Homo sapiens: one gene and its partners. The protein of the gene in region 1 interacts with the protein of each later gene in a pairwise test. Each region holds a gene or a part of one and is shown in the gene's direction. Other genes may lie near its edges.

Region 1 (7,764 bases):
TTACCTCTGCTGGAAGGGCTAAAATAAAAATGGCTAACAGGCCAGACGCAGTGGCTCATGCCTATAATCCCAGCACTTTGGGAGACCAAGACAGGCGGATTGCTTCAGCTCACAAGTTTGAGACCAGCCCGGGCAACATGGCGACACCCCATCTCTACCAAAAACAATTAGCCAGGCATGGTGGCACATGCCTGTAGCCCCAGCTACTCAGAAGACTGAGGTGGGAGGATGGCTTGAGCCCAGGAGGCGGAGGTTGCAGTGAGCTGAGATCACGTCACTGCATTCCAGCCTGGGCAATAGAGCCAGACCTTGTCACCAAAAAAAAAAAAAAAACTTAACAGTGCCAGGTATTGGTAAGTATATGAATAGACTTTAATCCTGTGTTTCCTCTAACATTCACATTATATACTAGGTGCTCTGGAAGAAAGAAATGATGCTTTAAAGTTTACAAAGCACTTTTACATTAGGTACCTCATATGATCTCCAAAGTAATCCTGTAAGATTATTTTTGAGTAGGGGGTATAAAGTGAATCAGCCCATTCATCCTGCCTCGCATAGACTAGACATAACTGTGTCTGATTGGATTACTGAGGCTACTAATACCAGCCTTCTATCTATCTCTTTTTTCATTTATGTGGGAACCTGATTGTAAAGATACAGTAAATTAAGCACCTTAGAAATAAAACTGTGAATTATGTATTTATCATCACTTTTACTGCAATAATAGCCACTAGTCTTCCTTCAAGTACTAGATAATATGTATTCTTGCTAAAATAACTTCATTTCTCAAAATGCAGGTCTTCCACTGAGCTAAAATAAGTAACTATTCAGAATAATATCTATTGCCAACGGAAAGAGTTTTGAACTGGCAGAGTCAAGACAAATAGAGTTCTTTTTCTCTTTGAAGACAAGTTGGTTTCACTGGACTTATTTTTGTCCTCCAGCCTTTGGGGCCTCATTCCAGATTCTAGCCAGTGTCTGTCTTCTTATTTCAAGAAGGCTGTTAAACCTGTAACAGATGATACATTGATGTGAGTCACATGCCCTGAAAAGCCATAATTCTGGTGAGGGTTACTAGGAGTGAAATTTCATTGGTGAGATTCCAGAATCACTGACCCTGCAGCAGTAGTCTATAGAAAGATGGTGGGTAAATGGTAAAATTAGAAATGTCAGTGGAGAGCTTACCCATCATTAATCTTTTCTAAGTCTTCCCTGACTCATTCACCAGAGGCTTTGATTGACTGACCAAAGGCAAAATATACAACTTTTAGTTTCACATATACAGCTTTGCTCTGTAACCAGAGTCCTGCCAAAATTGGCTCAGAACTGCAGCCAGAAGGGTTTGAGATACAAAGATTGCCTCATCTCATAAAGATTTGTGACACAGAGTTTTCTTCTTTCACAGGAAGGATCCATTTGGAATGGGTCAAATGCAAGAGGATAGTTCAAATGACCTCTTAAACATGGCCAGTGACAGTTACAGAACTCTAAATGGTGTTTAATCTACTTACAAGCATTTTATATTAAGTCACCCTTAAATGGGAACATACTCATTGAAAATCAAAGTGAGTCCTTCATCATTAGGGTTCTTGGAGTCCAGTGGGATAGAAAAAAGCAAAATCATCATATAGTATGGTATATAAAATTATATGAAAATGTGTGGAAGAACAAGTACAAAATGAAGTGGCTAGAAAAACTAGAAAACCATTTTTAAAAGCCAAGGGAAGGCCGGGCACAGTGGCTCACGCCTGTAATCCCAGCACTTTGGGAGGCTGAGGCGGGCAGACCACGAGGTCAGGAGTTCGAGACCAGCATGGCCGATATGATGAAACCCCGTCTCTACTAAATATACAAAAATTAGCCAGGTGCAGTGGTACGCTCCTGTAATCACAGCTACTCAGGGTGCTGAGGCAGGAGAATCGCTTTGAACCCAGGAGGCGGAGGTTGCAGTGAGCCAAGATTGCATCACTGCACTCCAGCCTGGGAGACAGAATGAGACTCCGACACACACACACACACACACACACACACACACACCACACACGCGCGCGCGCGCACCAAGGGAGAGACTGTATGGTGGCAATAGCCTCTATAGCCTCTGGAAGAGCCATTGGCCAGGAATGGAAAGGGAAGGCACTTGGCACTGCTGGCTTGAGGGAATATCTTCTCTCAAACTTCTTTTTGATTCTGGGGAGCTCCCATACGTGCTTGTGTTTGAGTATCTTCCTGCTCCAACTCTGCCATTTACTGTTTTCCTCATCTGATAATGTGAAAGTAAGAGGTGTGTCTCAGAACTATTAGGAGGATTTAAAATGAGATCACATGTGATATGTATGGCATAGTATCTTGCCTATTTTATAAGGCTTCTGTAAGCCCAGCCCTGGAAGAGAAGCCTCTCTCCAAATCCACCACTTCCAGGTGGATTATCCATCCCACAAAAGCAACTCAGGTCATCACAGTGACACAGGCCTCAGTTAAGGTTTACATGAAAATACTAAAGGCCATAAGACTGCTGAGTATTTGGAATTCCCCATCTAGATTATTGCCCAAAGGGACCACATTTTAGCATGGTTTGCGCAGTGGGGGCACCCAGAGACCTGGCTGCTAGAACAAATTCCCTGCCCTCTGAGTATGTAACTTTGGGCAAGAGTCCCTTGTTCAACTCCTCTTACTTGGTTACTGAGGTGATAATCAGTCTCCCTCAACATGTGTCACTATTATCTATCATATGCCTGGCACTATGCCAGGGTACAGGATATGGCCCTCTGCCTTCTAGGAGCACATGGTCTGGTAGAAGTGGAAAGACACAGACCTGAATAACTGACATAAGGCAGAATAAGGTGAGTGTTGCGATGGAAGCACAGAGTGCTGTGGTAGCACAGAGGAAGGAATGATTACCATAAAAAGGAGAATTAGGGACCTGTAATACCTTTGTAGAGTGAAAAGGCTTCTTGTGGACTTTGTGTAAGGTGTTGATGTATCAAGGAAGCGTTCCACAGGGAGGTGAGTAATGCAAGACCAGGGCTGAAGTTTAGACTACACAGGACATGTTTAGGGATGAGTGAGTAGTTCTGTGAGCGAGACAGGAGGATGCCGGGGTAGAGGGAAGTTGGAACGTAAGCTAGTGGGTTCTACAGAGGAAGGGCTTTGATCTGCTGATCAGAAGGTTTGGGCCAAGCCCAGGAAAAGGGATAGCAGCAACATACGTTTGTTTATTCATTTGCTTACTTACAACAAACGTTTATTCATTATTTATAATGCAACAAGCATTAACCTAGGTGCTAAGGAGAGAAAAATGAGTAAGACACAGTTTCTTTCCTCAAGGAAATCACAGTCTGTTGGCAGAGATAAGTAGTAATGGTGCCTAATATAGGTAACACTTGCTACCTGCTCCAAGAACAAAGTTAAGCAAGTGATTAAGTTAAGCAATGCTTAGAGGTAGAGGATGTAAGAATGGCCTTAAAAAATGTGTCTTCTGAGATGAGTTTGAAGGATAAATGGAGTAGGAACTTGCCAGATTGAGGTAAGAAGCCTTCCAGACACAGCCCAACAATGCAGCAAAGCCCAATGCTTGACTAACTGGGGCACACAGGGAACACTGCAAAGTTTGGTTTGGATCCTAGAGTGGAAAAGGGAACTAAAGAGAAAAGATTGGTGAGATGAGTTGGGATAAACCTAGGAGTTTGGGCTTAATCCTGAAGCATTGAGGCGGTGTTGAAAATGTTTACACTGGGAAGTTAGGAAAGTAAATATTAGTAGGATGGAAGGATCAGAGAGGCCCTGGGCAGAAATCATAATGTGGGTGACTCCCAGGTTTCTGGCTTGAGTAACTGTTGCCATTCCCAAAATAAGAGAGGCAGGAGGAGAAGAGTTCCAGAGGAAGATGATGAGTTCATTCTTGAGTATGTTGAAGGTTATTGCAGGGTGCCTGTGATGCTCTTGCAACCCCATCCCCACCTTGAAATCCTTCAGAGGCTCCCCGTTCCCTTTAGTCCTGGCCTGGCCTCCAGTGTCTTCTCTCAGCCCTGCCTTCTAATGTGCTTGCTGCAGCCTGAGCAGCTTCGAGTTTCTAGAACTTGCCAGGTTGTGTTCTACATCTTTGAGCCTTCAACTAGAACACCATTTCCCTTCTCCTGCCTTCTGCCTGGCCAGTTGTGGCTCATCCTTCCAGACTCACTCAAGATAAAACATCTCTGAAGGAGGCTTCCCTGACATTGTCTACCACCACCCCCAGCAAGGGCTGATACCAACTGTCAGCAGCTACATACTCACCCCTACTTGACTGTAATGATTTGCATCCATGTCATCTCCTGCCCTACTGTGACATTCCCAGACCACCCCTCACTGGGCAGGTGGCATCTCTGTATCCCTTTTGCCTGGCCCAGATGGAAATTAGGACATCAGTAAATGTAAAATGAACAAATCCAGATGGGAGCATCCAACAGAGAGTTGGAAATTCCAAAAAAAGCAAAATGAAAGGCACCAAAAAAATGCATACAACATTAACACCTTATGTCTACCATTCGCTCCCCCCGCCACCCCCGTCCTCTTCCCTAAGCACTACATTATCTAAAGCCTAGATGTTCAATCATCCAAGCCCATGGCTGTTGGCTTGGTTATGTGTCTGGAATGGAACAGAAAGGGAGGAGGAGTGCAGAGGCCCAAGGAGGAGCATCAGTGAAGGTTTGGAGACTGACCTGGAATTCCTAGCCATCATGGTGGGTACAGTTTACATGAGAGGAAGCCTGGCTTTACACACCTGTTTCCTCTTTCTAAGCTCTGGCCCCTATTTTCTAACACCATCTGGTGGCCACATCTGTAAATAACAAACTCCTCAGGAGCTGAGAGAGCTTCTATAAGGCAAAAGGTCCAGGGATTGGCCTCAGAGGGCTATTATGTATTACAGCCCCAACAAGTTTATATGTATACGAGATTTGCCTTTTCTGATGAGACACTCCAAGAGCTTTTGACCAGAATCTTAAAAACTCCTATAGCCTCCAAAAGGCTTAGAATCCCTGCTACAAAGGATTGATTCTTTTTTTCCCCAAGTGAAATCCTATGAAGAATCATACACAAGCTAAAGAAGCAGACCTAAATCCCTGCTTGCTCAGAACCTCACCCTCCAATTTCCCAAAGCACTTACAGAGAACCTGGAATCTAGTTTGAAAACCACTCTTGTGAAACGAAGGGCTTGTAGAGCATCGGGGCCAGATGGGCCCTTAGAAATCATTGTGACGTACTAGGTCCCACCTGAGAGAGGAGGCTTGGTGATACACACAGCACGTATCAGTAGCAGTACTGGAACCTAACACAAGTCTCCCCTCTTGTTTCTCTTCTCTTTTTACTGCTTGCCTTATTGCCCAAAACCTAAATTTAAAAATGTACTAATCAAAACTTTTTCTATATATAGTTCCCAAACAGGAAACCATTCTTCATATAGATTTCTAGGTCTCTGGAAAGAGATCTTTCCCCTCAAAATGCCTCTTAACCAACCATAAATCATGGTAGAAAATAAATCTAGAGCTTACGTTTGAATAGTTTGTTGTTTGTTTGTGTTGGGGCGTGTGTTTTTTTGAAACAGGGTCTCATTCTGTTTACTAGACTGGAATGCAGTGGTGCGATCATAGCTCACTCTAACTTCGAACTTCTGGGTTCAAGCGATCCTCCTCCCTTAGCCTCACCAGAAGCTAGGACTACAGGTGTGCAGCACCCTGCCCAGCTAGTTCTTTTTTTTTTTTTTTTGGTGGCAATGGAGTCTTATTGTGTTCCCAGGCTGGTCTTGAACTCCTGGCCTCAAGTGAACCTCCCACCTCAGCCTCCCAAAGTGCAGGGATTACAGTCATGAGCCACTGCACACTGCACCTGACCCAAATAATTCTTTTCAACTTACAACATCAATACCCATGGGCTAGTTTCACAGTGGCAGAATAGACTCAGAGAGGTAAAATGACTTGTTTGCTGTTTCCTGTCATCAACTTAAAGGTTCTTTCCACTGTCTCACAACATTTGTGTTCGAATGTGCATATTCTGCGGTACTTAAAACAGTGAACAAATAGGCAATCCATCTGGCTTATTGATACTTGTTCAGGGAGTGGGGGTTATAACCCCTGCTATTAACTGCCATTTGGAGATGGGGGACGGATGAAGTCTAACATTGTTTAAACATTCATATACTAGAGTCTGAACAACCTTCAAAATATGCTTTTAGTCACCATTTTACAGATGCCTAAACCAAAGTATAGAAAGAGAAAGTGCTTTGCCTCAAGGTCACACAGCTAGTAATTGTCTCACCCTCCTGCCCTTTCCCTTCTTTCTCTTTTAGGAGTGCCAGCTTCTCTCAGGGCACCAGAGCCTCTTTTCTCATGAGGAGTGACACAGCTGTACAAAAACTTGCCCAGGGCAATGGACACTGTGTCAACGGGATCAGTGGTCAAGTCCATGGCTTCTATAGCCTTCCCAAGCCGAGCCGGCACAATACAGAATTCAGAGACAGTACCTACGACCTCCCCCGCAGCCTGGCCTCCCATGGCCACACCAAGGGCAGCCTCACAGGCTCCGAGACAGATAATGAGGATGTGTACACCTTCAAGACGCCCAGCAACACCCTGTGCAGGGAGTTCGGGGACCTCCTGGTAGACAATATGGATGTTCCGGCCACCCCACTCTCAGCCTACCAGATCCCTAGGACATTCACTCTGGACAAAAACCACAATGCCATGACAGTGGCCACTCCTGGGGACTCAGCCATAGCTCCCCCACCCCGCCCCCCCAAGCCAAGTCAGGCAGAAACACCTCGATGGGGCAGTCCTCAGCAGAGACCGCCAATCAGTGAAAATAGCAGATCTGTCGCTGCCACCATCCCCAGACGCAACACCCTCCCTGCAATGGACAACAGCCGACTTCACCGAGGTCAGTATAAGTCCTAGCTGAGACTCAGAGGGAGGAGGAGGTAACACAGGGGTTCTCAATAGTTTGATGGTCCTTGGTCATCCATGGCCGAGGGGAACTTACGAACCACCTAGGTCACTGATACTCAAAAACATAGGTGTCTTCTACCCAGATCCCTTACCAGTTGGTCCTCCAGCACTGGAGGCTGTTAGTAGTAGTTGTCTAACAGAGCTAGCCCCAGAGAAGTTAATGTTCTACTAATGGAGAATAGGACATTCTTGATTAACCACAGTATAACATATTATGGGTTTAGAAGCCCAAATCATTGTATTTTATTCATTTGTAAATCAAATCAAAGATTTAAAAAATAAATTCAGAAGATCAGTCCAAACTGGAGTGAAACCTGTGTGGACTAACAGACTGCTAAAGCAAAACGAGGTCTTAATATTTTCTAAATCATACTTGAATCTCTTTGGTTGAAGTCAAAACTTTTATTTGAAGTACCTAAATTCTATTGTTACTTGTTTTCCACTGAGAGTATTCCAACTCTGCATGTAACCTCCTCTGTATGATGAAAAAATAGAACAATATTAATTCCTTTCATTTTGCATCTTGCTTTATGGTTTGCAAAGCCTTTTCTTGTCCATCCTGTTGTTTAAGCCAGGCAGAGAGGTTGGTGGGACAAAACCTCCTTGTCTCCATCTCACATGAGGCCAATGACAGTTAAGAGACTTAAATAGAGTTGCAGAGTCATTGTGCCAGAGATGAGACTCAGACCCTAGAGTCCCAGCTCCTAGTTTAGACCTCTTTGCCGTCTTTCAATCCATCGACAATTTGAGCAGTCATACTCCGTTTTGGAACTGAGATGATAAAGAC
Region 2 (8,033 bases), about 31 Mb from region 1:
AGGAGAACTGCTTCTTGTTCCCTCCTTCACCGTTCTGGAAGGGTGGAAAGTGCAGGGATCATCTTGCAGACCACTGCGTATCTACTCAAGTGACTTCTGCCCAACCTTCCAATCACAACATAGAGAATAATCCAGAAACCTGGATTCCCAGACCTGAGTTCAGAGATGATACAGAAGGCAGAAAGGAAAGATGTGACATTTATTTCATCCCTACTACATACATTTATCTTTACATGCATTATTTCATTTATTCTCACAGTAAACTCTAGGAGATAGTTACTAGCAAGGGGCAAATATCAAATTTGAATACAGGTATAAGACTGGGTGTGGTGGCTCACACTTGTAATCCTAGCACTTTGGGAGGCCAAGAAGGGCAGATCGCTTGAGTCCAGGAGTTTGAGACTAGCCTAGGCAACATGGCGAAACCTCACCTTTACAGAAAACACACACACGCACAAAAATTAGCCAGGCGTGGTGGCATCTGCCTGTAGTCCCAGCCACTTGGGGGGCTGAGGTAGGAGGACTGTTGGAGCCCAGGAGGTCGAGGCTGCAGTGAGCCATGATTGCACCACTGCACTCCAGCCTGGGTGACAGAGGGAGACTGTCTCAAAAAAAAAAAAAAAAAAAGAATACAAGTTTAGCTGATTCAAAAGTTTGAGCTCAAGCTCAAACAAACAAAAATCACAAATACACTCCATTATATAAAACTGCCGGCTGGGGCCGGGCGCAGTAGCTCATGCCTGTAATCCCAGCACTTTGGGAGGCCGAGTGGGTGGATCACTAGGTCAGGCTAACACGGCGAAACCCTGTCTCTACTAAAAATACAAAAAAAAAAAGCCAAAAAAATTAGCCAGGTGTGGTGGCAGGTGCCTGTAGTCCCAGCTACTCGAGAGGCTGAGGCAGGAGAATGGCGTGAACCTGGGAGGTGAAGCTTGCAGTGAGCCGAGACTGTGCCACTGCACTCCAGCCTGGGCGACAGTGGGAGACTCTGTCACAAAAACAAAACAAAACAAACAAAAAAAACAGCCGGGTGGGTGCGGTGGCTCACACCTGTAATCCCAGCACTTTGGGAGGCCAAAATGGGCAGATCACCTGAGGTCGGGAGTTCGAGACCAGCCTGACCAACATGGAGAAGCTGTCTCTACTAAAAATACAAAATTAGCCAGGCGTGGTGGCACATGCCTGTAATCCCAGCTACTCGGGAGGCTGAGGCAGGAGAATCGCTTGAACCCGGGAGGCGGAGGTTGCTGTGAGCCGAGATAACGCCATTGCACTCCAGCCTGGGCAACAAGAGCAAAACTCCATCTCAAAAACAACAACAACAACAACAACAACAACAAAACAAAACAAAAACTGCCTCTTCAGATGGAAAAAAAATGGCTAACATACCTGGATTTAGGTTTGCTTCTGCCAACACAGAATATGGTAGTGGTTCCTGTCCTCACCTTCAGAGATTCTGATTTATTTGATCTGGGATAGGCCCACATATCCATCTATCTACATGTGTTTTTTTTTTTTCTTTTTTTTTTTTGCACCTGTAGTTACGAACCAAAGTGTAAGAACCACAGAATCATCTGGCAGAAAATGCAAAAGCTGAAGGCAAAGGGGTGAAGAAACTAGGGCTCAGCTTCAGGCTCTACTATCTACTTGCGCTGTAATCCCCACCCTTCCTGGAATAGTTTCTCCCTATAAAAACTGAAATAGTATCTGCTTCATCAATCCCTCCTACGTGGGATACTTGCATGCACAAAGAATATAGACATATTTGAGCAAGTGGGAAGAAAAGCAAAAGCTGAATTTGAGAGATAGCTGAAATTTGGTGAGCCAAAGATTTACACTCTGAAAGTACAATGGTCTGGCTAGTTTGCAAGGAGTAAGAGGCCCATTAAAACAAAACACTCAACTGCCTCCCACTACCACTAATATGCAGCATTTTGCCAATTACCCAAGCCCTCTTTATTTTATTTTTTTTTTTGAGACAGAGTCTCGCTCTGTTGCCCAGGCTGGAGTGAAGTGGCACAATCTCGGCTCACGGCAGCCTCTGTATCCTGGGTTCAAGTGATTCTCCTGTCTCAGCCTCCCCGGTAGCTGGGATTACAGGCACACGCCACCACGACTGGCTAATTTTTGTATTTTTAGTAGAGATGGGGTTTCACCATGGTGGCCAGGCTGGTCTTGAACTGCTGACCTCAGGTGATCCACCCGCCTCGTCCTCCCAAAGTGCTGGGATTACAGGTGTGAGCCATGTCCGGCCTAGGTCCCGTTTAGTCCAACTAATTTGAAAAGGTTTCCTTTGACAGATACCTCTTTATTGAAAGGATTTCGGGATCACCAATTACAGTTTAGTAATGCAGTTTGAGTAGCCTGCAAGAAGCAGCCCATTATAGACTATTTAACTGAAAATCACAAAACCTGACTTTTTTTTTTTGAGACGGAGTCTTGCTCTGTCGCCCAGGCTGGGGTGCAGTGGCACGATCTCCGCTCACTGCAAGCTCCGCCTGCTGGGTTCACGACATTCTCCTGCCTCAGCCTCCTGAGTAGCTGGGACTACCGGCACCTGCCACCACACCCGGCTAACTTTTTGTATTTTTAGTAGAGATGGGGTTTCACCATGTTAGCCAGGATGGTCTTGATCTCCTGACCTCGTGATCCACCCGCCTCGGCCTCCCAAAGTGCCGGGATTACAGGCGTGAGCACGCACCCGGCCAAAACTTGACTTTTAATCCATTCTCAAACTGTGCCCATGCCCAAACTGTGAATTTGGGCAAGTCACTTCCTCTCTTTAGGTTTGTTTCCTAAGCTGTAAAGTAAGAGGACTAGGTTAAATCAGGTATTCAGAGATGCTGATTTATGAAACCTGTAATAAATGGTCTTTGTGAACCATTTGGGATTATATGCAAAATTCCATGTGTGTGTTTATATGTGTGAACATTTTTCTGGAGGAGAGGTGCAAAATTTTCATGTGATTCATAAAGGGGCTTGTGATTAAATAAGAAGGTTAAGAACTGTTTGGCTACCCAGGCTTTGGCTCTTACTCTATTTGCTTCTTGGCCTCCTCCATGACAACTCTGGAAGCAAAGTTTAAATCCTGAAGTATATATAAATAATTGAATCTGGAGTCCTAGGACAAAATAAAGACAGATAATCCTGATCTTTTTTTTTCTTTTCTTCTTTTTGAGACACAGTCTTGCTCTGTCATCTAGACTGGAGTGCAGTTGCACCATCATGGCTCACTGCAGCCTCAACCTCCTGGGCTGAAGGTGATCCTCCCACCTCAGCCTCCCGAGGAGCTAGGACCACAGGTGTGTGCCACCACACCCAGCTAATTTTTAAACTTTTTTTTGTAGAGAGGAGATCTTCCTAAGCTGCTCAGGCTGGTCTCCAACTCCTGGGCTCAAGCAATCTTCCCACCCTGGCCTCCCAAAGTGCTGGGATTAGAAACGTGAGCCACCACACCAAGCCTAATCAGGTTTTTGTTGTTGTTGTTTTGAGACAGTCTCACTCTGTCGCGCAGGCTGGAGTGCAGTGGCGTGATCTCAGCTCACTGCAACCTCCGCTTTCCGAGTTCAAGCGATTCTCCTGCCTCAGCCTCCAGAGTAGCTGGGATTACAGGAGCACGCCACTGCACCCGGCTAATTTTTTTTTTTTTGTATTTTTAGTAGAGACGGGGTTTCGCCACGTTGGCCAGGCTGGTCTCGAACTCCTGACCTCAGGTGATCTGCCTGCTTCGGCCTCTCAAAGTGCTGGTATTACAGGTGAGCCACGGCGCCCAGGCCAAGCCTGATCAGTTTTGTTTCCCAAAGATCTGAGGAGATTTGCTTCCAGTAGGCAGATCTGAATCAAAGCATCCCCAGGACCTATGATCTGACCTGCAACCGTCACAGGAGTCACAAAGTCCTGAGGCCAAACTGGCTGCACCTGAATCCTAATGGTCAATGCCAAGAGGGCCATTGATTCTGTGGAAACCCCACCTACTCCCACTTTATGATATGCGCCTGTCCCTTACCTCAAAATACCTCCCCACTGGTCTGAAATTCCTCCCCCAGGGATTCAGTGCTTTGGGTTTGTAAAGTCTGAACATCCTGTGCAACCCAACTCCTTTGGGAAGAGGCATGACATGACGTCTTGACTCTAATTAACTAAAACTTGGAAGTGGAGGGGAGGGAGGACAGGGAAAGGACTGGAAGGGAAAGTGAGAGGGCTACTGAAGCTTTGTGCAGGGCAGGAACGGTAGGCCAGACTGGGGCAACCTCAAGGACACACGGAGTCCAAAGGGTTGTTTACATACTGTGTCCTGCACCCCAAGCAAAACATCTCCTGGAGAACAGGGCCAGGGCTCAATCTCCCCACAAAGGCAGGGGCGTGGAGAGAAGCGACCTCTACTTTCCCATCCCTCGCCTCAATTCTGCACCCGATCTAGCTATGGGGTCAAGCCTGGAGGGGACGCTGGTTCTCCAGACATGGTCCCGCCCACTGCAAGTGCCACCTTGGTAAGGGATTTCTCCGAGCAGAGGCAAACGCGAATTTGTGGCCTTCTTAATCAAGATGAGGTCTTCGAGCCCTGTCTGCCGCGCCAGGTCGCGTTACCTTCTTATGCTCCTCCGCCACAGCCAGACCACGACCCTCCTGCACGCAATCCCACCGAGACTGCGCCTTTTCCCCGCACCCCAGCAGGTCCCTAAGTAAGATGGCGGCGAACGCACTTCCGGCGTGTGTCCTTACGGGTGCGTCCGGGCGGCTGCTTGCAGGTGCCACCCAGCGGGTTCCAGCTTGTTTGCTGCATAGATTACAACGGTGATGGCGGGCAAGCGGTCCGGCTGGAGCCGGGCGGCTCTCCTCCAGCTCCTTCTCGGCGTGAACCTGGTGGTGATGCCGCCCACCCGGGCCCGGAGTCTGCGCTTCGTTACCTTGGTAATGAGAGATGGGCTCACCAAAGACTTCCCTGAAGCTAAAAGGGCAAAGGCCAGCTGGTGGAGGTCGAGGATCTCGGGAAGGAACAGCTGGTTTAGGAGGGGACGACTGGCCTGGGTAGTTGGGAGGCTGGATTCAGGATTGACCTGGAGCCCTGGCTTATGGGAGTCAGGATGACCGAATACGTCGGGGTGAGTCTGCCTTGAGACAGGGAAGTGGTTGAATGGTTAAGACTCATCCCTAAAGAAGCCTTTGGTTATCTTTTTTCCCCAGTTGTCCCCACCACATACGTTGCTTTCACTTCTCTTTTCCCTTCCTACCTGTACCTTGGCTTTGCCTATGGTCTCCAGTAGCATTGCTTAGCTAAGTTAGAATCTCTGGAATCTGGAAGAAGTGACTGACTCCTAGCTGGGGTCTTTTGCAGCCAGTAGGCTTCCCAGAGGGAATGAGACTTCCTTCCCTAACATGGGGCAAAAGGTAGGCTCTGGGTCCCTATCAAGGGGATGCTTCTGACCTATAGGCAAACCATTTTATTCTCTCAGCTGTACCGCCATGGAGACCGTTCACCAGTGAAGACATATCCCAAGGACCCCTATCAGGAAGAAGAATGGCCCCAGGGGTTTGGTCAGTTAACCAAGGTGGGTCAGAAGCCAGCCTTTCCTCAGGATGAGCTGCAGAATGAGCGACGTCTAGAGCAGTCTACAAAACTTGGGGTCCTACTAAACTGCCTTTTCCCATATGGGTGCTGACTTTGACCAGATTTCATAACCTTAATCTCTGTGCCCATGATATTGCTGTGCATGACTGGCCACTTAATGAAAGACTTCTGGGATCAGATTAATTGACTCCAGCAAAGCGTGAACCTGGAAAGCAACAGGGCCTAAACCCCATGGGGCTTGAAGCCACCCCTTCCCTCTAGACCCTCTTAACCCTTGGGTTTGCCCACAGGAGGGGATGCTACAGCACTGGGAACTGGGCCAGGCCCTGCGGCAGCGCTATCACGGCTTCCTAAACACCTCTTATCACCGGCAAGAGGTAAGGTTGGGAGCTCCAGAGGCAAGGGGAACAAGGTATGCTGCCCTCATCTTTTGCCCTCAGGGAGCCTAAGGCTGAGGCTGGGCACTTTGGCCTCCTTCTTGTATTTTTGGTCACAACTACAGGAAAAGACATCTGAGAGCTGTCTGGAACAAAGCCCTAGGAGCTGAGTTGCCCCTGCTTGGCTGGGATGAGGCAAATTTGATTAAGCATCCAAATTCGGACTTAAGGGCGGGCCTGGCAAAGTGGTTTCTGACTGTGAAATCACAGGCTTTCCATCCAAGACATTGAGTACCTATTAAAGGCCAAGGACTGTGCTAGCACTTTGCATTCAGTTGTGCACCATACAGATATGATCTCTGTCTTCATGGAGCTTAGAATGTTGTGGGGGTATCTAATGATAAACCAGACAGGGCCAAGATGAAAGACAGCGGGGAAGACATGCGTAGAGAGGGCTTGTCTTTTCTTGATCAAGATGAGGTTTTTGAGCCCTGTCTGCTGCGCCAGGTCGTGCTATATTCCTAGGGCACATCAGGGAGGACTGGTGAGTGTGCCTGCTCCTTGAGTCTTCGCCCCACCCCAGGAATGGGGGAAGCTGTTCCTCTGATTACCACTGTCAGCCTCAGCCGTATCAAGAATCCATAGACATTGTTATTGTTCTCTTAAGGCCCAGCTCTGTCCTGAGCTTGTCCTTCCCCAGTTTCCTCCTCCCTTTTCATGAGCCACTATCTCTGAATAAGCTCTTCAAAAAAAATTTTTTTTTTTGAGACAGAGTCTTGCTGTGTTGCTCAGGCTGGAGTGCAGTGACATGGTCTTGGCTCACTGCAACCTCCACCTCCTAGGTTCAAGCGATTCTCCTGTCTCAGCCTCCCAAGTAGCTGGGATTACAGGTGTGTGCCACCATGCCTGGCTAATTTTTGTATTTTTAGTAGAGACAGGATTTCATCATGTTGGCCAGGCTGGTCTTGAACTCCTGACCTCAGCTGATCCGCCTGCCTCGGCCTCCTAAAGTGCTGGGATTACAGGCATGAGCCACCGTGCCCGGCCCAAAATATATACATATATTTTAAAGGGGTCTCACTCTGTCACCCAAACTGTAGCACATGCCTCAGTCATAGCTCACTGCAGCCTCAAACTCCTGGGCTCAAGTGATCCTCCTGCCTCAGCATCCCAAGTAGCTGGGACTACAAGTGCCCGCCACACTTGGGTAATTAAAAAATTTTTTTTTGTAGAGACAGGGTCTCACTATGTTGCCCAGGCTGGTCTCGAGCTCCTGGCCTCAAGCGATCCTCCTGCATTGGCCTCCCAAAGTGCTAGGATTATAGGTGTGAGCCACCAGGCCCAGCCCTTTATCTTATTTTTTTCTCCCTGGTCTCTAAGGGTCGTCACTGGAGCCAGTTTCTGCCCCAAGGACCCTGATCTAGACAGGGAGAGAGGTGTTGTTATGAAACCAGACAGACCAGAGAGCCTTACTGATTGACTCAGCACTTTTGACTGGAAGGGGCATTTCAACTAAGGCCATTCCCACAAGAGTTCTTCACAGAGTGGTGACAACCCCCAGTGGAGTGTTTGGGGGATGGGGAAGGCCAGAGGCCAGAGGAGGGTGAGGGCCAGATGTATGGTAGGTTTAGTTTGCTGGGTGACCATCAGGAACAGGTTCTCCTCTGGGGCTCCACTTTGGGGTGACCAAAACTTCCCACCACACACACACACATACATACAAGGCTCCACTTCAGGGTGACCAAAACTTCCCCAACACACACACACACACACACACACACACGACTTGTGTTGCTATCGCTGCAGGTTTATGTGCGAAGCACAGACTTTGACCGGACTCTCATGAGTGCTGAGGCCAACCTGGCTGGACTCTTCCCTCCCAACGGGATGCAGCGCTTCAACCCGAACATCTCGTGGCAGCCTATTCCTGTGCACACTGTGCCCATCACTGAGGACAGGGTAAGAGTGGCCAGCCCTTCCCTGGGGTGGTGAGGGGACAGCTCTGGCCGTAGGCCTGCTGATGCCAGGCTCCTTTTCCCGCTGCCTGTTTCCCCGCTTCGCTCTACAGCTGCTGAAGTTCCCGTTGG
Region 3 (7,764 bases), on another chromosome or scaffold:
TTTCCCTGTGTGATGCTGGTGACCCAGAGCTGTCCCTTTCACAAAAATGTTCAAGAAGAACTAACTGAGTAAAAGCAAAAGCAAAGCATGTCAGCATAGATTTGGAGTCAGTAGACCTAAATTCAGTTATCAGCGTTGCTACCTACTAGCTATATGATCTAACCTCTCTTGAGATTCAGTTTCCCTGTTATAAAATGGGGATGATTGTAGTCCTCATCTTTCAGGGTTGTGGGAATAAAGTGAGACAAGAAAGCCATGAAAGGTGCCTAGCACAATGCTTAGAATGTCGTAGGCACTTGATGTTATTTCCATCATTAGCCACCATCACAAAGGCCTGATTGCAGATTAACTTGTTCTTTTTATCAAAAGCAACGTTAAGGATGCCTCAGGTACATGAAGACCATAACAAAGACTGGAGCTTATTTACTGTAGCAGATTTCATTTGAAATGCTTGGGAGCCATGCTTCCCAAATGAATGAGCTGGAAAAAAAATTACTGGCTAGATAATGGTGTCTAGGTGTGCACCCTCCCTCTTCCAGAGGCAGTGAGTTATCTGTGATCAAGCATGACTAGGCAGAAGGTAAACCCTCACCTGGATAAAGAACTCCTGCATTCTGCATTTTTCTGCAGAATGAGAGGTTTGCAGCTCAGAATAAGTGATAGGATATGATGTTAAAATGGTGATCATGGGAAATTTGAGAGGAAATCATACTTTTAAACCATCTGCTATGTGCAAAGGACTGTTTAAGGAATTTAAATTTTTTTATTTCATTTAATCCTCACAATAGCTATGATATAGGTTTTAGAATCTCCCAAATCCCATTTTACATATGAGAAACTAGGGCTTAGGGTTTAAAATTTAAGAAGAACATTGAATGTGTTAAATTCCTGACAAATAGCATGAGAGATATTAAAATACTCATTCTTTTCCCTTGACTTCAGTAGTGCTCAAGATCACATAGTTATTAAATGACAGAGCCGGGATTCAAACCCAGGTCCTTGATTCCAAAGCCCCTCCCAGAAGACATTCAGCATGTCGAGTAGAAGATGACAGTTACAGGCCTGGGTGCCTAGAAAAGCATGGCAATGATTAAAATAAGGTGCTTTTTTTCTTACTTATTGGAAAATGAATTACTGAATATCTACTGTGTATCAGGAATTGCCTGGGCTAGGGAGGCAGAGATGAAGAAGGCCATTGCTGCTTAACGGGGAGCTTGCAGTTGGACAGGGAGGTGAGGACAGTGCACACCATACGATGTGACAAAAGAAAAGTGTGTGTAACAAGAGCTTCTGGAGGGGAAGAAAAATTCCAGTTTGGATGGTAAAAGATGGTTATTGGTACAATATTTTCTTGCTACAATATTTTCTTGCTACAAAAGTATGAGTTAATTTTGTGCAATTTACAGTGAATTTTGTGAATATTAAGGGTGTTTTCATCTATGAGAATTTTTCATTTGTAATTTCATGCTTAAGTGGATCAGCATTCTTATCTTAAGGGTTTGGCATTTAACACCCAGGGGCTTTCAAAATGTCTTTTTCTAGAAGTGCTTGAATTGAAATGATTCCATGGATCCTACTATCTTTTTCTTTTCCTTATTCTTCATTATGGTCAGTACTTTCTGAATGCTTATTGGGTGCAAAGCACAGATAACATTCAGGACTTTATAGACAGAATATAAGTAAGATGTGGCCCTTGCATTCCCTGAGTTTTCAGTCCTAAAGAGAAATGGCAGGCTGTACTTTTGCCACAAGCCAAATACCCCATCTCTATTGGTAATACCTCCCTGTGGTTTAGCAGCGACCCTGACGGTTTTGGAGGGAGTCTGGCACCCAGCCTCTTTAGTTGGACCAGTTGGAGGATGAGGTTATGCTTGGAGCCATGGAAGTGATATTCAGATCTCAGAGTGTTAAGAGAGGACTGGGTCTTAGGTGCTGGTAAGGGGAAAGAAAAAGGTAACCGTGTTACCTTTTCTGGAGCATCCACTTTGTGCTAAGGTTTTATATACATTCTCTCATGTAATACTTCCCATATTCCAGGGAATAGGGTGGGAGGGAGTAGGAGCAAGGGAAGGGCAGTTGGCAAACGGGAGCCAGCAGAACCCTGCACACGGCATCCTTGAAGGGTGGTGTCGGCCTGAGGCGCCACGGCCAGTTCTGTGATGCTGGATATCTCAGTACACCCTGGGCATTTCTGCAGGCATGTTGGTTGCCTCCACTAATTCATCTTTCATGCTACCTGGTTACTGAGTTGTTTTGAACCATTCGGCAGAATTTATACATAAGTGTGTCCTTTGCTCATTCTGCCTGCATTTGTTGACAGCCCTTTTTTCCTTTCTTCTTGTTTTCTTCTGCCACTGCAAACTGGGGTTTTAGCCTCAAGCCCTATCCTGTTCCTGTAGGGTGTGTTTCAGATGCCAGCTTATTTCAGAGTTCCCTGTGAGCCAGCGGGTGCATAGAAGCTAGGTTGTTGTCTGCATTCTGATCTTGCATCCAGCAAGCCACACACATTTGAAGAAAGAATAGAGAGTTGTTTGGATCTGGCTGATTGAGCAACGCAGGCTTTATAATTGTGTCAAGCTAGGTCTTGTCAGACTGCATCGACTTAAGTAATATTCCATGTCAGGCCCACAGGTTTATGGCATTGAAGCCTCTTTGTTTCAGTCTCAGTCATCCTAAACAGACTTCATTTCCCAATAGAAAAGCTTTAGATGTGAATGAACCCCAAATACCTGAAAACATCCATTTTCTGCCTGCATGGCTACTGGTCCCAGAACCGTTACAATGCTAGTGCAGCCATGCATCCTTTTAAGTCCATCTCTGAACAGTATTGTTTGGTTATAACTGTATGGAGAATTAGGGAGCTTGATATATGTCCCTTTGCAATGCCTTCTAAGTCTTAATAGCCAAAACTGGGTGGTAAATATTATTTCCTTTTCCCTTTACTATGTGAATGATACTTAGACAAAACTTATATAACTATCTTAACTATGCAGACATTTACTTCAGCCCAGAGTGTCTGTGATCTTGACTATGAGAATCTTGTCTCTTGAGCTTTCTTTTTTAGCTTGAATATCTTTCTATATTTCGAAAAGATGGACCAGAAATATTTAAGTTACTACTTAAGTCAACACAGGATGAAAAGTTTTTAACTTCTTTAAAGGATTAATGAGGGTGCCCTCCAGGCCAATCCCAGTGTGCTCAGGAATTACCTCTCTTGTTGGGGATGTGACATGCTCTTGGCCAGAACAGAGCTCAGCCGGATGTCACTGTGCTCACTCAGCCTGTGGGGTGAGAGGCCGAGGATTGCTTCCTGTGGGCTGAGTAAGCCTTCCTGTGTTGTCAGCGACTGCCAGACTAGCTGCTGCCAGGCAGTACCAGCTTGCCCATCAGGCGCTCTTGTTGCCTAACTGAGACACTCTGTGCTTTCAGGAACGAGAGTACCCTGATGTCCAGACAGCCTCCCGTTGCTGTCTAAATATTTGTCTTGGATATGCTTGTAAGCACCACTGGGTTCCCAGCACTCTGAGTGGGCCTTCCTGGAGTGGGGAGCCTGTGTCGATGGAGCAGTGGGTGGGGAATTTGGAGATGGAAGCCAGGCCCTTGACTCAGAACTGCTCTGTACTTGAATGGAACTGAGCTATGCAGTATGGCCTGGTGGAAAGAATGTGATCATGGGCATTAGCCTCCAACAGACCTTGAGTGTGAATACCCGCTCTCCTGTTTATTGCCTGACCTTGAATACAACAGTTGATCTCCCTAAGCCTCGGTTGCTTTGTCTGTGAATCAGGGAAGAACACTAATACCTACTTTGCAATGTCGCTTTGAGAATTAAATGACAAGCTAGCATATAGAAGCACCTCAATAAATTAATATTAATTGTAACAACCACCACCACCATAACCTTCATGCAGAAATAATTACAGTTTAGGATTTGAATCCTGGCTGTCACCGTTAGGTAATATTTCCTAGCTATAATAAAACAGCTTACACTTGTTGAGGACTCATTTTGTGTTAGATATGCTAAATGGGTTCTCTCTTAATCTTCACAACAACCCCATGAGGTAGATACTGTTATCACCCCCATTTTACAGATGTGGAAACTGAGCACCAGAGAGGCTAAATTACACACCCAAGGTGATACTGCAAGAAATAAGGGAGGGAGGCTTAATAAAAATGCAGAGCTTTTTGATTCTTATGCTGGTAGTCTTAATTAATACCTCAGGTGCTTCAGGAGTAAATAAAGTAAGCCTCAAATTAAATAATAAATGTGAAGTGTCCTGTACATGGATATACACAATACATAGTGGAGGTCTTCCACCCGAGTGGCTTTTAATCTAAAATCTGAAAGTGGCTTGCACCCTTAGATATATGAGAGAGCTTAGTAAAAGTAAGAGTGACTGGAGGAGATCCTGCTGGGCTTGGCAGCTCTGAAGCTCCCATCGCACTCTCTGTCTTGTTCTCTCAATCTGACATGGTTTCCTGTGTCTTTTGCTCTAAGCAGCAGACCTGCTTGGACTGTAAGAAAAATTTTTGCATGACCTGTTCGAGCCAAGTAGGGAATGGGCCCCGCCTCTGCCTTCTCTGCCAACGGTTTCGAGCTACAGCCTTTCAGCGAGAGGAGCTCATGAAGATGAAGGTGAAGGACTTGAGGGACTATCTCAGCCTCCATGACATCTCTACCGAAATGTGCCGGGAGAAAGAAGAGCTGGTGCTCTTGGTCCTTGGCCAGCAGCCTGTAATCTCCCAGGAGGACAGGACTCGTGCCTCCACCTTGTCCCCAGACTTTCCTGAGCAGCAGGCCTTCCTGACCCAGCCTCACTCCAGCATGGTTCCACCTACCTCACCCAACCTCCCCTCTTCATCTGCACAAGCCACCTCTGTTCCCCCAGCCCAGGTTCAGGAGAATCAGCAGGTAAGGGCCCATTTGTAGTCTCTGCCAGTCTGTGCCAGTTTGAGGGCTCATTTTCATTTTCCTCTCCTGCCTTTGTTGTGAGAATGGGGTATAAGGCTAAGTGTCTTGATTATGTGAAGCCTTTCTGACTACTGGTGCACCAAGTGTTTTCTGGGTATCAGACTCATGTTTTGGCTTTCTTCAGAGGTGATATGCACAGTACCAATTTTTTTGTTTGTTTTTTGTTTTTAATACACACATATCCTAGTTAGACATTTTTTAAAGTTCATCATTCCAGAAATATTTTGAGAAAAGTAACCATTAAGCCATCAAATTTAGTTCTGTTCCAATTTGTCTTTCAACTTAACTCCTTTGTTGCAGTCTTCATTGGCTGGATTGGAAACTTAGTTCCTTAGTAACCATCACAAGGAATATAGGAAAGCAAAGGGCTATATGGAGGCAAGGGAGGGTGGGGAAACAGACAAAGACACTGCTTCTCTTACCAGTCACTGGCTGGAAGCAGGAGTAGTTGGCACGCTGTACTTGCATGCTGCTTCTTCATTATCCTGGGGGGCTTGGAAGTGGTAAGCTAAGAGCAGCACATCAACTGAATCATGACCCAGGTCTGGGGAGTATAGAAATGAGTAATAAACTGTCTCTGTCCTCAAAAAGCCCCCAGAAGAGGGAAGGTAGACAGGTAGACCAACTAACTACTGGATTAGAGTGAGGCCAGTGGACATAATTGTTGTATAAGAAGTGATGATGTTGCATAAGTGCCTTAAGTGACTCTGTTATTTATAGCAGCGGCCCCTAACCTTTTTGGCACCAAGGACTCGTTTTGTGGAAGACAATTTTTCCACAGACTGGGGTGCGTTGGTTTTGGGATGAAACTATTCTACCCAGATCATCAGGCATTAGTTAGATTTTCATAAGGAGCATGCATCCTAGATCCCTCGCATGCGCAGTTCACAACAGAGTTCACATTCCTATGAGAATCTAATGCCACCGCTGATCTGACAGGAGGCAAAGCTCAGGCAGTAATGCTTACTTGCCAGCCACTCACCTCCTGCTGTGCATCCGGGTTCCCAACAAGCCATGGACCAGTACCAGTCTGTGGCCCAGGGGTTGGGGACCCTTGATCTATAGGGCTTGGGCAATATGGGGGAATTAGGAACTACAAGATCCAATTTCCACATCCACTTTTGTCACTGACTTCTTGATCCCCTTGGGCAAATGTTGAGCCTACAACAATGAAATGAGGTTAGTAATCACAGACCACTTTTGATCTTGCCAGGATGTTGAGAGACCTGAATGCGTGATACCATGTCTAAAAGAGCTCTGAGTTACTTAGAGCTGGTATAGTGCTAGTGCTGTTGGTTCCCACACATGATGTGGATGGCTGCTGCCACTTGTTTATGATCACCTCCTTTGCCAGGACTGGGCCCCCTGATTCAGCTCTTGACAACCACTGAGGCATAAAGGCCAATGTGATAGCATAATTTAACTGCAGTAAAATCATTTAACTCCCTTTTTGGCCTGAACATGTTTTTCTCCGCAGCTGGACTTTAATTCTTTCCTAAGCTCTGACTCTTGGTCTGCTAGACAGATTTAAACTCCTGCTATATATTCTTCCCTTTGCTTGTGTTTTTTTTTTTTCCACTCTATGTATAAGGAGCCAGGAGAAGAACTTGAGGAATTCTTTTTCTGTAAAGAACCTTGGCTGGGCGTGGTGGTTCATGCCTGGTAATCCCAGCACTTTGGGAGGCTGAGGCAGGCGGATCATTTGAGCCCAGGCATTTGAGACTAGCCTGGCAACATGGCAAAAACCTGTCTCTACAAAAAATACAAAAATTAGCTGGGCGTGGTGGTGGGTGCCTGTAGCTACTCAAGAGGCTGAGGTGGGAGGATCATTTAAGCCTGGGAGGTCGAGGCTGCAGTGAACCATGATCATGCCACCACACTCCAGCCTGGGCAACAGAGTGAGATCCTGTCTCAGAAAACAAAAACAAAAAACCAAGCAAACTTTTCAGGTAGATTTTTCAATGAAAGATGATAAGCTTCCTGTCATTAACCAGAAATTTCCAGATTGCACCTAAAGGTCACCCTACATACAAGATCTAAGTGGGTACTTTTCCTCTGAGATTTTCAAGAGACCTTAGTGTCTGCTTACATCCCCTGTTCTGGTGAGAGCTGCACTTTGCAAGCAGGAAAAACAGGCATGGAAGAATTAAGTAACTTACGCAGTACTGTCTGACAAGTTCATAAGTGAGCTGCACCTAGAATGTAAATTTCCTTATAATACTTGCTCAACCAGAGTTCTCTCTTTCACCTTTAGTGCCCTAGCAATCAATAGTTGCTAGGCAAGGAAGTATATACAATAAGCACAACTGTGGACAGGTACTAGTTTTGGATTTTTATTTAGCCAGTGGGCAAACTGGAAAGACAAGAGCATGCTTTGCAGCATGAGGTCGTTTCTCTTTCTAGGAAACAGGACATCTGAAAGATAGCTACTTAGGAACAGGTTAGGCTCTGAAGGATTCCAGGGTAATTCCAAGGTAACACTACCTGAGAGACCAGTGAGGATCTACAGTAAGCTAAGAGAAAACGTTGTTGATGAAGACATTGATTTGGATCCATCCCCATACATGTGTACTATGCATTTGATCTTGCCTTGATTTGGCATTTTGTTACTTCTGCTTTTCATTTCCATTGCAGTTGGTTGCCTCTTCTTGATTAGCTCCATATTATGAATCCTAATGTGGGGTGAGTGGCTGGGGTCGGTGGGTGTCTTTGGTTTCCCAGATTGTCCCTTCACTGGCATCCCCAGAATCTGGTGGAAAAGGCCTGTGAGCTCAGACACCTCTTTGCTCTGA
Region 4 (7,768 bases), on another chromosome or scaffold:
TCAGTTCTGAGGGCCCAATCAAGACAGGGAACCCAGCACTGACTCTGGGAGGTTGCAAAACTGAAACCTGCTCACCAAGGTTATGCCTTATGCCCCTTCCATATACTTCTGGCTGAGCAGTGCATTTATAACTTGTTGGGTTTTTTGTTTTTTTGAGACAGGGTCTCACTCTATTCCACAGGCTGGAGTACACTGGCAATCTCAGCTCACTGCTCTCAGCTCACTGCAGCCTCGACCTCCCAGGCTCAAGCAATCCTCCCACCTCAGCCTCCCAAGTAGCTGGGACTACAGGCATGCATTACCACACCCAGCTAATATTTTTGTATTTTTAGTAGAGACAGGGTTTCGCCATGTTGCCCAGGCTAGTCTCGAACTCCTGGGCTCAAGGGATCTGCCCACCTCAGCCTCCCAAAGTGCTGGGATTACAGGTGTGTGTCATCACGCCTGGCCTTCTAACTTATTGTTGATATTAAATGTAACAACCAGGCTGGGCACGGTGGCTTATGCCTATAATCCCAGCCCTTCGGGAGGCTGAGGCGGGCAGATCACAAGGTCAGGAGTTCGAGACTAGCCTGACCAACATGGTGAAAACCTATCTCTACTAAAAATACAAAAATTAGCTGGGCATGGTGGCACGCGCCTGTAATCCCAGTTACTTGGGAGGCCAAGGCAGGAGAATCGTTTGAACCTGGGAGGCAGAGGTTGCAGTGAGCTGAGATCATGCCATTGCACACCAGAGGGAGACTCTGTCTCAAAAAATAAATAAATACATTTAACAAGCAGCAGGGCACAGTGGGTCACACCTATAATCCCAGCACTTTGGGAGGCCAAGGCCAGTGAGATCACTTGAGGTCAGGAGTTCAAGACCATCCTGGCCAACATGGCAAAGCCCTGTCTCTACTAAAATTACAAAAAATCAGCCAGATGTAGTGGTGTGCACCTGTAGTCCCAGCTATTCGGGTAGCTGAGGCACAAGAATTGCTTGAATCTGGGAGGCAGAGGTTGCAGTGAGTTGCAATTGCACCACTGCACTCCAGCCTGGGAGACAGCAACTCTGTCTCAAAAAAAAAAACAAAAAAAAGAAGAAGAAGAAAAAAAAATTTAACAATCCACTGTGTCTTAAATTTCAGCTTTTGTCACCACTCCCTCCAAAAAAAGGTGCCTCAATGCAACAGCCTCTAGGTAGAACTAGCTTCTAAGTTCTTCTCTGCTCCTGGGAGCCATTAGCTTAGGTAGTCAGGAAATACCCTAGGCCGGGTGCAGTGGCTCATGCCTGTAATCCTAGCACTTCGGGAGGCCGAGGCGGGCTGATCACTTGAGGTAAGGAGTTCAAGACCAGCCTGGCCGACAAAGCAAAACCCTGTCTCTACCAAAAATACAAAAACTGGCCAGATGTGGTGGTGCGGGCCTGTAGTCCCAGCTACTCGGGAGGCTGAAGCTGGAGAATTGCTTGAGCCTGGGAGCAGAGGTTGCAGTGAGCTGAGATCACACTACTGCACTCCAGCCTGGGTGACAGAATGAGACTGTCTCAAAAAAAAAAAAATTACATAAAATAAAGAAGAAATACTCTAGAGTCTAGGATCGTGGTTTTTAAACTCAATATGGCTGCACATTGGAATCATCTGGAAAATGTTGGGGCTCAGAAAATGATACCCCTGACTGAATAAGGCACTTTGGCATGCTGCATGCTTTGAATTAAAGAAAATTGAAAGGCTTCTGAAATAGCGTCAGAACCAAGGTTTCTTTCTGACCTTCCCCTAACCCCATCTCTCAATCCCCTTTTCCCAAAGCATCCGGAGGGGCTTTGTCTGAAGTTCCCTTATCTGAATAAGGTAGGTTCCTCCAGAATAAAATACAATAGTCTTAAAACTTCCTCCCTAAGAATCTCATCAGGTAACCAGGAAATATTAACCACTGGGAAGAGAAAAGACTAAAAGTCATCACCATGCCCAGACAGACTCTTCATCTATTTTTCTGAGGGCAGCTTTTGAGAGATTTTCCAGGAGACATTATTTGCCTAATAAGGCAACCTTTGGTCACAGTGAAGTTCCTCCCCTTACCCTTTGCTGCTGTTTCCCCCAGAGCTCACAGGAACTTTGTCTCAGGCAAATTTTCTGTTCTTTGAACTCATTCCTATCCTTCCAAAAATCACTTACTAGCCCTCTAAATTGTTTACCATCCCATCTCCCTTCCCTGTGAAGTAGATGCTATTTAAGCTTCAGCCATCTGGCCCTTCTTTGAGTCTTATATTTCGTGTGGCTCCTGTGCATAAGCACATTAATAAATGTGTATGTTTGGCCTGGTGTGGTGGCTCACGCCTGTAATCCCAGCACTTTGGGAGGCCGAGGTGGGCAGATAACCTGAGGTCAGGAGTTCAAGTCCAGCCTGACCAACATGGAGCAACCCCATTTCTACTAAAAATACAAAATTAGCCGGGTGTGGTGGCGCATGCCTATAATCCCAGCTACTCGAGAGGCTGAGGCAGGAGAATTGCTTGAACCCGAGAGGTGGAGGTTTCGTTGAGCCGAGATTGAGCCACTGCACTCCAGCCTGGGCAACAAGAGCAAAACTCCGTCTCAAAAAAAAAAAGTGTATGTTTCTTCTCCTGTTAATTTGTCTATTGTCAGTTCATTTTAGCAGTGAACACTCAGAGGGTGGAGGGGAAGCCCCTACAAGAGCTTTAAAAGCTACTGATGCTTGGGTCTCACTCAGAGATTCTGATATATTCAGCCCAGGTGTAAGATTTTAAAAGCTGCCCAGGTGATCCTAATGCCAAGGCTGAGGCCCCTGGAGGAACCCTGCAGAGCTGCACTCACTACTCAGCAATCCCAATCCACACGTGAAGGGTTAAGCAGGAGTACATTTGGGTGCAGGGGGCAGGGCATTGTTTTGGGACTCAGGGGCCTCTGAGGAGGCTTGTGGCCTGAGTTTCTGCCAACAAACTGAATGCCTCCTCTTCCCATAACAAAGCGTAGAAGCGGGAGGCATTTGCATTTGCCGCAAGGGGCTGTGACTTCTCTGAATTTGTCCCTCAAGCCCCAGGTGCTTCAGCCTTGGTGGGTGATGAAGCAGAGCAGCCTGGGGGTGACCTGTGCTAGGGTCCAAGGGTTTCCAAGCTCCTCAGAAAATCATACTGGCTTCAGTGGAGCTGCAGAGCCACTTGCAGGAGAACCTGGATGTGCTGTCCTTTGGAAGAGTGGCCATAAGGGTCTACGAGTTCATTTTAGGGTGGGCTCAGAAATCAGATTGACTCAGCAGGCCCCAGAGAGGAACCTGCACTTTTTTTTTTTTTGACGGAGTCTTACTCTGTCGCCCAGGCTGGAGTGCAAGTGGCGCAATCTCCACTCACTACAACCTCTGCCTCCTGGGTTCAAGCAATTCTCCCGCCTCAGCCTCCCCAGTAGCTGGGATTACAGGCATGCCTGGCTAATTTTTGAATTTTTAGTAGATACCGGGTTTCGCCATGTTGGCCAGGCTGGTCTCTTGAACTCCTGGCCTCAAGGGATCCGCCCGCGTCAGCCTCCGAAAGTGCTGGGATTACAGCCACCGCGCCCCTTCAATTAACTCCTATTTTTTTGTTTGTTTTTTGGAGACAGAATTTCGCTCTATTGCCCAGGCTGGAGTGCAGCGGTGCAATCACATTCACTGCAGACTTGACCTCTAGGCTCAAGCTATCCTCCTGCCTCAGCCTCCTGAGTAGCTGAGACTACAGGGACGCACCATCATGATTGGTTAATTTTTGTATTTTTTGTGGAGATGGGGGTCTCCCCATGTTTCCCAGGCTAGTCTTGAACTTCTGAGCTCAGGCAATCCACCCACCTCGGCCTCCCAAAGTGCTGGGATTACAGGCACAAGCCACCGCGCCCGGCAAACTTATCTCCTACTGATGGATATTGCAAAATTTTTCTTCTACCAAAAAAAAAAAAAAAAAAAAGATAGATATAATCCATACCATCTGTTCAATCTTGTCCTTTTTAACTTTTTCAGGGAAACTTCCCCCAGGTGATAGATGGATAGATACATGAGATAGACATAACGCATACGATCAGTTCAATCTTATCTTTTTTAACTTTTTCAGAGAAAACTTCCCTTAAGTGAACATTTAAATCTGAATTACGTCCTGTTAAACTGTTCTCCAGGAAAATAAAATAAAATAAATCTTCAAGTTTTTGTTTACCTAACAATTTGTTGTGTCGAACAAACCTTCCTACTTTTCAGGTAACAAAATGGCAGCTTAGGCTAGAAAGCCGCTCATATTCGCAGGTACAAGGGCTGGGTAAGAACGCCCCGCCTGGCTGACTAACTTGAGTTCCGCGCTCTGGACAGGAATTATGCACAGGGCGTCGCTGTGGCACTAGAAACCCCAAAGTCACAAGCGCCCCAGATCCGACCAGGATGCCGCTACCGGCTACAGCCCAGAGGCCCGCTCCTGCGGCGCAAGCCCGCCTTCCTGAAGAAAAAGCCCAGTCCCGGCAGCGTTCTTCTCCGGCTCCGCCCTTCTTCCGCTCGACTTTCTTTGCCATTGGCTGACAACGGAGTACATAAGGACGTCATTTCCTGCCGCCTGTCTTTTCCGTGCTACCTGCAGAGGGGTCCATACGGCGTTGTTCTGGGTGAGTTCCGTGTAGCGTCCCTGGCGCCTTCCAGGGCTAGAAAAATGAGCTTTTCCTGCTCAAATGAAGGGTGAGAAGACTAGTGATGAAAGCCGGTCAGACTGGATCTGTCTCCCGCCCGGCGCGCCCCACCTTAGGCCTGCGGCCCGCACGTGGCCAGGCTCGGGCTGGCGGGTTCCCAGAGTGCCCCGGGAGCGGGTGGAGGCCGCCCTCCAGCGGAGGCTCCGAGCTGGGGTTCGGACCAGGCCGCGGGTGGGCGGGAGTGCAGAAAGCGGGCTAACATCCTGTGTTGCTATCCCTTCGGAGTCCCACACGGCGGTGAGTCTAGGCCCAGGCGCTGATTTACACCAGCTACTTGGGCTGGTCGGGTTTTCCCTTCGCGCCGTGCGGGTCAGGAGTTAAGGTTCTCGGGTTTTTAGACAAACAAGTGGTGACAGCACAGCGAAGTAATTCCAAAGCATCCGCCTACAATCTGCTTGAAAATGTCTGAAAACAATTCATGCCTTTTTTGCCTTTAGTTTGCATATTCCAAACATGGCTGCTCTTTTGTATCTAGTTGTTAACTTGGCGCATCCACAACTTTTCCTTAATTCCTATCTTGAGAAGTGTTGAATTTCCATTCGCTAATTTCGTGTAGTTTTATTACTCGGTTACTCTGCCGTCCACACTATTTCCTCAGTAAGATGTGCGCTGTTCCGTAATACACGACATGTATGGGTTAACTTTCTGTTTACCCTTCACTACACTGTAAGCTCAATGCCTGACACTATAGCAGATGGAGTTTTTGGTTGCTTTTAAGGGTGTGCCCTACTTAACTCAATGGAATGAAAAGAAATAGGTTGCTCTCTTATTTCAGATTCCCGTCGTAACTTAAAGGGAAATTTTCACAATGTCCGGAGCCCTTGATGTCCTGCAAATGAAGGAGGAGGATGTCCTTAAGTTCCTTGCAGCAGGAACCCACTTAGGTGGCACCAATCTTGACTTCCAGATGGAACAGTACATCTATAAAAGGAAAAGTGATGGTTAGTCATTGCTTTAATTTTTTGTTACTCCAGCTGTAAGTACAAATTTTGAGCTTGCTATTCTCGTGGTTAGTTCTGGGTAATTTCTTTCTATCTTCCTTAAATGAAGCCAGACCCCTACGTTGAAAACATACTTTAAATAAATGTTCTTGTTATTGAGAGAAAAGATTTCTGCTCCAGGGGAGGAATATGTCAGTTGTCTGAGTTACGGGACTTGGGTTGGGTCATGAACATGAGAAAGTTCATTGGCTGAGTTTCTAATAGCTCGCATAGTGCCTTCAACTTCATAGGTACTTACACAGGCTATTGAACTGAATTTTGAGTGGAAAGTGGGGTAAGAGGTGGGAATGAACAATATGGTTTGGAAGAACCAGAGGATGGAAGGCATTAAGTTGGCTAAGGCACTTACTTATTTTAGAGATAAAGCTACCAAGGACTTGGGAGTGACATGCTGTAAAGGAGTTTTAGGATGAATCTTGCATCAGTGCAGATTATAAAAGGGAAAGAGTGGCAGAAAGCCAGGAAGTGGATTATTAAGAACCAATGATGGAATAAGTACAGGGAAAGAGAAAGGAAAGATGGATTTAGCCAACTGAATCTAGGCTGCACACTATTAAAGCTCAGGGTGGAGGCCAGTCTTGGCTCATGAACTTCTGAGTGTCGGAAGTGTGCTATATCAATGGCAGGATTTTCGCTAACACCAGTAGAGCTTGCCTCTATGACTGGAGTTTGGTAGTACTCGCTGCCACATAGAGTAAACTTGAGAAGAATGTTTGCACAGCCAGGTCAAGTGTTACAAATCCTTCTGCCCTCACTTAGGCATCTATATCATAAATCTCAAGAGGACCTGGGAGAAGCTTCTGCTGGCAGCTCGTGCAATTGTTGCCATTGAAAACCCTGCTGATGTCAGTGTTATATCCTCCAGGAATACTGGCCAGGTTTGTGGAACAGTGGTTAGTTTTTATATTATAGAAATAAAGCTTACAGACATTGTGAGACATAGAAAGACATAAGAAAACAGAAATAACTCAGGCCGGGCGCGGTGGCTACGCCTGTAATCCCAGCACTTTGGGAGGTGGAGTCCGGCGTATTACGAGGTCAGGAGATCCACACCACGGTGAAGCCCCATCTCTACTAAAAATACAAAAAATTAGTTGGGCGTGGGGGCGGGTGCCTGTAGTCCCAGCTACTCAGGAGGCCAAAGTGGAGAATGGCGTGAACCCGGTGGGCGGAGCTTGCAGTGAGCTGAGATGCGCCACTGTACTCCAGCCTGGGTGACAGAGCCGAGACTCTGTCTCAAAAAAAAAAAAAAAGAAAATAGAAAACTCAAACTCCACTGTTAAGAGATCTTAAGTTGGACTGAGCCATAGAAATCGCCCTTATGACCTATGACCTTCCTTTTTTTTTTTTTTTTTTTTTTTCCTTCAAGACAGTCTCTCGCTCTGTTGCCTGTTGTCCATCCTGGACTGCAGTGGTGTGATATCGGCTCATTGCAGCCTTTGCCTCCTAAGCTCAAGGGATTCTCCTGCCTCATCCTCCCGAGTAGCTGGAATTACAGGCATGTGCCACCATGCCTGACTGATTTTTGTATTTTTAGTAGAGACATGGTTTTACCATTTGGCCAGGCTGGTCTTAAACGCCTGATCTCAAGTGATCCTCCCACCTCGGCCTCCCAAAGTGTTGGGATTACAGGCGTAAGCCACTGCGCCCAGCCTGTAAGACCTTTTCAACATACATGCTGGGCATCTGGCAGTATGTTGAACTTTATAATTTCATTTTGTGTAGACTTGTGCCACTAAATATCTAGAAATTCTATTAAAGTGGCTTATCACATTTTCCCATAGTCAAAGTTTTTACCTTAAAACAATGAAATACTGGGACAGAAATTTTTTAAGAATCTTAGCCAGTCATGACGGCATGCACCCATAGTTCCCGTTAATTGGGAGTCTGAGCCAGGAGATCCCTCAAGTCCAGGAGCTGGGGGCTGCAGTAAGTTATGATTTTGCCACTGCACTCCAAGCCTGGGGCACAGAGTGAGATCCTGTTTCTTAAAAAAGCCAGTCATGGGTGGCTCATGCTTTTGTAATATGGGGTACTTTGTGAGGCTGAGGCTGGTGGCTTGCTTGAGCCCAG

Evidence for each region.
Region 2: the proteins of GAB2 (region 1) and ACP2 interact in binary tests that used the Homo sapiens proteins (3 or more experiments, as listed by UniProt).
Region 3: the proteins of GAB2 (region 1) and RFFL interact in binary tests that used the Homo sapiens proteins (3 or more experiments, as listed by UniProt).
Region 4: the proteins of GAB2 (region 1) and RPSA interact in binary tests that used the Homo sapiens proteins (3 or more experiments, as listed by UniProt).

What each region holds. Positions count from the first base shown.
Region 1 is NC_000011.10:78,225,610-78,233,373, reverse strand, and holds part of GAB2 (GRB2-associated-binding protein 2), read left to right. Parts: exon of another isoform or gene 1-1,009; intron 1,010-6,322; coding exon 6,323-6,909; intron 6,910-7,192; exon of another isoform or gene 7,193-7,764. UniProt on the Homo sapiens protein: Adapter protein which acts downstream of several membrane receptors including cytokine, antigen, hormone, cell matrix and growth factor receptors to regulate multiple signaling pathways.
Region 2 is NC_000011.10:47,245,554-47,253,586, reverse strand, and holds the start of ACP2 (lysosomal acid phosphatase isoform 1 precursor), read left to right. Parts: upstream 1-4,783; 5' UTR 4,784-4,797; coding exon 4,798-4,911; exon of another isoform or gene 4,912-4,948; intron 4,949-4,958; exon of another isoform or gene 4,959-5,072; coding exon of another isoform or gene 5,073-5,102; intron 5,103-5,231; exon of another isoform or gene 5,232-5,287; intron 5,288-5,453; coding exon 5,454-5,549; intron 5,550-5,859; coding exon 5,860-5,946; intron 5,947-7,752; coding exon 7,753-7,905; intron 7,906-8,014; coding exon 8,015-8,033. Other genes in the region: NR1H3 (oxysterols receptor LXR-alpha), read right to left, coding at 4,723-4,783.
Region 3 is NC_000017.11:35,018,519-35,026,282, reverse strand, and holds part of RFFL (E3 ubiquitin-protein ligase rififylin), read left to right. Parts: intron 1-4,501; coding exon 4,502-4,912; intron 4,913-7,764.
Region 4 is NC_000003.12:39,402,152-39,409,919, forward strand, and holds the start of RPSA (small ribosomal subunit protein uS2), read left to right. Parts: upstream 1-4,568; 5' UTR 4,569-4,613; intron 4,614-5,469; 5' UTR 5,470-5,502; coding exon 5,503-5,635; intron 5,636-6,239; exon of another isoform or gene 6,240-6,388; intron 6,389-6,454; coding exon 6,455-6,573; coding exon of another isoform or gene 6,574-6,588; intron 6,589-7,768.